Homo sapiens: one gene and its partner. The protein of the gene in region 1 interacts with the protein of each later gene in a biochemical or structural test. Each region holds a gene or a part of one and is shown on either strand. Other genes may lie near its edges.

The links.
Region 2: of the proteins of PTPN22 (region 1) and PDPK1, one has a biochemical effect on the other in vitro, tested with the Homo sapiens proteins (one large-scale study listed by IntAct).

The regions. Positions count from the first base shown.
Region 1 is NC_000001.11:113,861,445-113,865,260, reverse strand, and holds part of PTPN22 (tyrosine-protein phosphatase non-receptor type 22), read left to right. Parts: intron 1-983; exon of another isoform or gene 984-1,063; intron 1,064-3,816. UniProt on the Homo sapiens protein: Acts as a negative regulator of T-cell receptor (TCR) signaling by direct dephosphorylation of the Src family kinases LCK and FYN, ITAMs of the TCRz/CD3 complex, as well as ZAP70, VAV, VCP and other key signaling molecules.
Region 2 is NC_000016.10:2,554,746-2,558,561, forward strand, and holds part of PDPK1 (3-phosphoinositide-dependent protein kinase 1), read left to right. Parts: intron 1-2,957; coding exon 2,958-3,218; intron 3,219-3,234; exon of another isoform or gene 3,235-3,816. UniProt on the Homo sapiens protein: Serine/threonine kinase which acts as a master kinase, phosphorylating and activating a subgroup of the AGC family of protein kinases.

The DNA of each region.
Region 1 (3,816 bases):
TGAGCCTTAAAATGTTCCATGATTATTTTAAATCTGCATTTCCTTATATACGTTTTCTGTTCATCTACTTTCCACAGTAACAACAGCTAATCCATAGAACTGTGTTCCAGACTCTGTGCTAAAAGTGCTTCACAAATAGAACTTCATTTACCTCCCAAAGAACCTTTTAAAATGGCTATCAATGTCCTACATGGTGTCTCTCCAGCTTCTTATAGCATGCTCATTTTCTTGTCCTTGCCATGCTTCCTCTGCCATAGGGCCTTGCACACATGTTGTTACCTCCGCCTTGAACATTCCTCACACTCCTCTTTACCTAGATAACATTTGGTAATTTTTTTTTTTTTTTTTTGAGACGGAGTCTCGCTCTGTCACCCAGGCTGGAGTGCAGTGGCACGATCTCTGCTCACTGCAACCTCTGCCTCCTGGGTTCAAGTTATTCTCCTGCCTCAGCCTCCTGAATAGCTGGGACTACAGGTGTGTGTCACCATGCCCGGCTAATTTTTTGTGTTTTTAGTAGAGACAAGGTTTCACTGTGTTAGCCAGGATGGTCTCTCGATCTCCCGACCTCGTGATCTGCCCACCTTGGCCTCCCAAAGTGATTATAGGCGTGAGCCACCATGCCTGGCCTTTTTTTTTTTTTTTTTTTGAGACAGGGCCTCACTTGGTCATCTAGGCTGGAGTGCAGTAGTGTGATCATGGCTTACTGCAGCCTCAACCTCTAGGGTTCCCATCTCAGCCTCCCAAAGTGTTGAGATTACAGGTGTGAGCCACCATGCCCGACTAATAATTCTTTAGATCTCAATTTGGTGGTCAATTCTTCAAAGAAAGCTTTCTTTTCTTTTCTTCTTTTCTTTCTTTTTTTTTTTTTCTGGAGACAGGGTCTTGCTCTGTCACCCAGGCTGGAGTGCCGTGGCTTGATCATAGCTCACTGCAGACTTGACTTCCTGGACTCAAGTGATCCTCCAGCCTCAGCCTCCCAAAGTGCTGAGATTACAACCATGAGCCACCACACCTGGCCAGAGAAAGCTTTCTGGACCTCTTTGAATAGATCAAATCTTCTATTGTAAGTTCTTATTAGCACCATTTGTTATTTTTCATAGCACTTACCACAATTTCAGTTTTTTGTTTGTTTGTTTGTTTGTCTGTTTTGAGATGGAGTTTTGCTCTTTTTGCCCAGACCAGAGTGCAATGGTGCGATCTTGGCTCACCGCAAGTGACTCTCCTATCTCAGCCTCCCGAGTAGCTGGGATTGCAGGCAAAGTTGCAGTGAGCCGAGATCGCGCCACTGCACTCTAGCCTGGATGACAGAGTGAGATCCCATGTCAAAAAAAAATATATATATATATATATATATTTATTAAATATAAAGGATTCATTGAATCCTAACAGAAAGAAGATACCTAGTTCTGAAGGCCAGGTTTAGGTGCTAACAGTTTAAACTATACTAGAAATCAGACTGGTACTATTGCAACTTCTGGAGATTCATTAGAAGACCAGAGACATATCAAAGATCTGGCTACATCTTGGTTCTATAAAGGAGACATAGATACATCCTGGTTCTGTGTATATTATAGTAATGATACTAACCAAACAGTTATCAACAAGGTACTTCCTACAGAGCAAGTGCACAAACATCTATGAATTGACACTACTCATTCCTGTGAATCAGCCTATCACTTGAACATATTTATCAGCATTTCTTGACCTTTGTGCACATTAAGGTGCAATTTTTAAAAATGCCACCACCAGAATAAATGTATCACATCACCTCTGAAGCTGATTTCTCTAACACCATCTCCAGCCTCTCACTAGGGACCATCTAGTCCTACATTTTCATTTACTCACAGGACACTTAAAACACATTTCTTGGCTGAGCGCAGCGGCTCACGCCTGTAATCCCCACACTTTGGGAGGCTGAGGCAGGCGGATCACTTGAGGTCAAGAGTTCAAGACCAGCCTGGCCAACGTGGTAAAACCCTGTCTCTAATAAAAATACAAAAGTTAGCTGGGCATGGTGGCAGGTGCCTGTAATCCCAGCTACTCAGGAGGCTGAGGTGGGAGGATCACTTGAACCTGGGAGGCAGAGGTTGCAGTGAGCCAAGATTGCGCCACTGAACTCTCTGCTGGGTGACAAGGCAAGATTCTGTCTCAAAAACCAACCAACCAACCAACAACACACACATTTCTTGCCATTTTCTCACATTTTATGTATCTAAAGTTGAACCTCTTGGTTTACTCACCCCAATTTAGCTATTGCCTACCCACCTACCCATTTGCCCCACTATTGCACTGGAAACTAACCTCGATAAGTTTGTCAGTCTTGTTGAAGATGATTGCATTGCACGCTCGTACAATTCAGTCTTGTCCTCCATTCCTACTGGTAGTTCTCCTGATTACTGGATTTAGAAGCCTGAGCTCCTAATGCCATTCCTTACCACTTGTACTTCTTCTGTCCTGATGGAGGCTTGGTATAATACTGACCTATATTTGCAAGGCACTGAGGAACTACCTTGCAGAGTTCTCGAGACAGCCAAACTTTGTGTTCTCCCACCTAGCACAGGAGGGCCAAGTTTAATTTTCCTCTCCCTAAAATGTATCTAAAATGCTACGTCTTCTATCCAGTAATGTAGTCCTTCAAGGCAAAGATATCGTGGTCTTGTGCTTTCTTTTACTTTCTGTTCTTTTTTGGGAGTGACTTTATTTTATTTACTAGTCTGTGAGAATAACATGCAAATGACTCAATCCGAATTTCTAGAATCTAATACTCCTTGTTATACTGGCCAGGATCCCCATTCTCCTCTCCTTTCTTGAAACGAAAGGGGTAGTATCATCTACAAACCAAATGAACTTACTATTAGCTTATCAAGCACACACAGAATCTGGTTTCTCACACATTCCACCCTATTTCAGGGCCCACGAGGGATGTTGAGCTCTCTCTTCACTTTATTCTCTTTTTTATTTTTATTTTTATTTTTTTTGAGGCGGAGTCTCACACTGTCACCCAGGCTGGAGTGCAGTGGTGTGATCTCAGCTTACTGCAATCTCTGCCTTCCAGGTTCAAGCGATTCTCCTTGCCTTAGCCTCCTGAATAGCTGGGATTACAGGGGTCTGCCACCATGCCCAGCTAATTTTTTTTGTATTTTTGGTAGAGACGGGGTTTCACTATGCTGGCCAGGCTGGTCTCGAACTCCTGACCTAGTGATCTGCCTGCCTCGGCATCCCAAAGTGCTGGGATTACAGGTGTGAGCCACCGCACCCAGTCTCTTCACTTTATCCTCTTGGCAACTATTCCCCTGACTTCTCTTGATGGTACTTCCTCTAGGGAACTCACACCCCTACCTTGTAGTTGGCAAAGAAATACCTTCACCCTTTAGATCTCATATCTTTTCTTCACAAACTTAAACCCATCCCCATGACCCTGCTTCCTCTTTTATACCCTTTTGCTTTCTACTTTCAGGGTTCCTCCTTTTCTGGTGTAGTTTATTACTTTTTCTGCCCTAATTTTGCCCTAATTTGTTCTTTCTTGGGATATTGGAGCCCGGGAGTCTGGCAGGAAGAGAGGTGGAAGAGAAAAATGAAGCCTGCCGGGCGCGGTGGCTCATGCCTATAATCCCAGCACTTTGGGAGGCCGAGGTGGGGGGATCACTTGAGGTCAGGAGTTCAAGACCAGCCTGGCCAACATGGCGAAACCCTGTCTCTACTAAAAATACAAAAAAAAATTGGCCGGGCGCGGTGGCTCACGACTGTAATCCCACCACTTCGGGAGGCCAAGGCGGGCAGATCACGAGGTCAGGAGTTCCAGACCATCCTGGCCAA
Region 2 (3,816 bases), on another chromosome or scaffold:
AGGCTGTCTGATTATTTGAATTTGCACCACCCTCATCCAAATAGTCCTGTTCTCTTTGCCTGCTTTATTTTTCTCATAGTAATCATCATCATCTGACACGCTGTGCATTTTCCTGCTCTGTGTATGGAAGTCTGTCTGTCCTGCTGGAATGCAGGCTTCTGGAGGGTGTGGTCTTGGTTTCGTTCTCTGCTGTACTTCCAGTGCCCAGGACGGTGCCCAGCATGGAGTAGCTGCTCAGCCAATGCTGTGGTCTTGATGGGACTGCATTCGCTTTACATGATTGAAGCTGCTGGCGTGGAAGCTGTGCCATGTCATGTAAAGCATGCAGTGGGAAAGCAGTGGGGTGGGGGCGTCTTTGTATTACATCATCTGTTGTTGCCGTTTCAAAAATCCAGAGGCCTTTCTACACTTCAGTTGGATGTTGATTTCAAAATGACCGATGTTTCTTTCTGACTCATGAAGGCTGCTGTCTTTGGAATCTGACATTAGAGGGAAGCGAAACTTTACAATGTGTGGGGCAGCCTGGTGTGGTGGCTCAGGTCTGTAATCCAGCACTTTGGGAGGCCAAGGATGGCGGATCACTCGAGCCCTGGAGTTTGAGACCAGCCTGGGCAGCATGATGAGACCCCATCTCTACAAAAATTAGCTGGACACGGTGGTGCACACCTGTGGTCCCACTACTCAGGAGGCTGAGGTGGGAGGATCACTTGAGCCTAGGAGGTCGAGACTGCAGTGAGCTATGATCATGCCACTGAACTCCAGCCTGGGAGACAGAGTGAGACCCCGTCTCAAAACAGAAAAAAAGTCACCAGGCATGGTGGCACATGCCTGTAATTGCATCACTTTGGGAAGCTGAGGCAGGCAGATCACTTGAGTTCAGGAGTTCGAAACCAGCCGGGACAACAAGCAAAACCCCATCTCTATTTTTTCAAAATTTGTGTATATAAAATTTTTGTATGAAAGCTGTGTGGTACATGTTTAGCTGTTTTATGTTTCACTTTCTGGACATGAGTGTGATCCTCCCTGCTCTTGCAGTGCCATCTAAGCTGTCATCAGTTTTCCTGGGCGAGTGATGCATCTCCCCAGCTGGTCTGTCTGAGCCCCTGGCCAGCCAAGGGGCTGCCCTTGACTCTCCCGGCACCCGCCCGTCTCTGCATAGCCACCCCCACCACTTTAACTGGATGGTTTTGTATTGAGGTCAGGCTGGACATCAGCTTTCTATGGGCAGGGACCGTGTCCTCTTATTGGCTGAGTAATTGGGTCCATAGCGTAGGTAAGTCACCTCCTTTAAGAGACTTTGATAAGCAAAATAGTGAATATATTCTTTTTATTTATTTACTTATTATTTTTTATTTTTGAGGCAGGATCTCCCTCTGTCGTCCAGGCTGGAGTGCAGTGATGTGATCTTGGCTCATTGCAGCCTCGACCTCCCCGGGCTTAGGTAATCCTCCTACCTCAGCCTCCCAATTAACTGCGACGACAGGCACATGCCACCGTACCTGGTTAATTTTTATATTTTTAGTAGAGGTGAGGTTTTGCTGTGTTTGCCCAGGCTGGTCTTGAACTCATGGGCTGAAGTGATCCACCCACTTTGGCCTCTGCGCCCGGCCTATTTTTTTTTTTTTTTTTTTTTTTTGAGACGAAATTTCACTCTTGTTGCCTAGGCTGGAGTGCAATGGCATGCTATCAGCTCACTGCAACCTCTGCCTTGCAGGTTGAAGCGATTCTCCTGCCTCAGCCTCCCAAGTAGCTGGCATTACAGGCATGCGCCAACAAGCCCGGCTAGTTTTTTTGTATTTTTAGTAGAGACGGGATTTCTCCATGTGGTCAGGCTGGTCTCGAACTCCTGACCTCAGGTGATCCTCCCGCCTCTGCCTCCCAAAGTGCTGGGATTACAGGCCTGAGCCACTGTGCCCGGCCTAATTTTGTATTTTTAGTAGAGAAGGGGTTTATTCGTGTTGGTCAGGCTGATCTTGAACTCCCGACCGCAGGGGATCCACCCGCCTCATCCACCCAAACTGCTGGGACTACAGGCATGAGCCACCAAGCCCGGCCGTTTTTAGCGTTTAAAAGGATTGCAGCTTGGCTGGTGGCAGTCCCTCTGTCCTGGCACAGACGCAGGGGGAGACCCTGTGTCTTCAGACAGCATGGACTTCAGGACCCTACTGAGAGATGGAATCAAGAGCTCTCCGGGGTTCTTTGAGTGGGGAGTTGTATCGGAAACCACCATCAGCGCGCCTGAGCTCGCCTCGCATTGTTCTTCTGTAGTGCGGGGGGCCACTGCCACCACCGTGAGGACACGTTGGGGTCTGGGGAGGGATTGTTATGGCTGTGGGTGCACCTTGCACGTCTTGCCGACCTAGCTTTGCACGCTGATCTTCCCTCCGTGCCCGCTTACATTGTTAACTGGGTTTCTGCCCTCCCTCCTCTCCTTCGTATTTCTGTGTCTCATTGACAACTGTTCTGTAGTCGCTTTGTTGACAGTTGCCAAACTGCTTTCCAAAAACATTTCCACTGCAATCCCGGTTTTTGGTGCCAGCCGCAGTGGTGTGAGTGCGCTCGCTTTATTATAGTCTTGCCAGCACTGGGCGTCTCTGTGTATTGTAAACACATGCGATCATCACTCTTATCTCTCCATCCCCCCCACAATTAAAGATGTGCCGTGCTATCTCTGCTCAGGTTACCTTGGCCTTGGGATGAGTTGGCTGGAGGCTCAGGCAGCGCGAGGGACAGGAGGAGGGCGAGGCGCTGCCTGGTGGATTAGCGGGGAGCCATGGCACGGGCAGGACTCAGGAGAGGAGGCCGGCAGCTCACAGCAGACCGCGGGGCTCAGCTGGCCTGCCCTGTGCTTGGGGTTTGTTTTTGAGCGTTGAAATGAGGTCCTTAAACCTTAGTCCGTGCATTGAGAGCAAGGCAGCTGCCTTGAGCCTTACTTCCTTTTCCTCTTTGTCGCCTAGTATGACGCCGTGCCCATCCAGTCCAGCGTGGTGTTATGTTCCTGCCCATCCCCATCAATGGTGAGGACCCAGACTGAGTCCAGCACGCCCCCTGGCATTCCTGGTGGCAGCAGGCAGGGCCCCGCCATGGACGGCACTGCAGCCGAGCCTCGGCCCGGCGCCGGCTCCCTGCAGCATGCCCAGCCTCCGCCGCAGCCTCGGAAGAAGCGGCCTGAGGACTTCAAGTTTGGGAAAATCCTTGGGGAAGGCTCTTTTTCCACGGTGAGTATTTGCTGCTGCTGTGTGTCAAACGTACGTGATTTCCTTGGGGAGGCTCACCTTCCTCGGGGCTTGCCGGAGACTCCAAGCAAGGCTGGTGTCCTTCCAGGCAGGAGGTCTCAGGCCCCTTGAGGGGTGTCACCTGTTGTGAAGGCCACTTGAGTCTTTGGGGGCTGGGTACCCCCCAAGCAGATGACGTGATGAGTGTGGCTAAATATTTAACCTGGTTTTGTAGATGAGAACGTTAGACACATCTCTTGATGGTCTGCGGAGGTTTTTTCTGATGTAGTTAATTTCATTTTAACCTGGCATCAGCAAGTTACATTCTGTGTCCTTGTGTCTCACTGGCAGGGCCCTGGGAAGCTGTTCTTTTTCTTAGATTGAAAGTTAGTATCTCTCCAGGGTTTTTGGGGACATTTATTGACCTCTTCTTATTTCTCTGTTTTGTTTTTTTGAATACATAAAACAGTACGCTCTGGACATTTGCTGGAGACACAGCCTCCAGAGTCTTGTGTTCCGAGTTTCACAAACAGGAGTATTGTCGCAGTACTGTCAAGTCACACTTGTTACCTGTCTTCGGGGTGTTTTTTCCTCTGAAAGC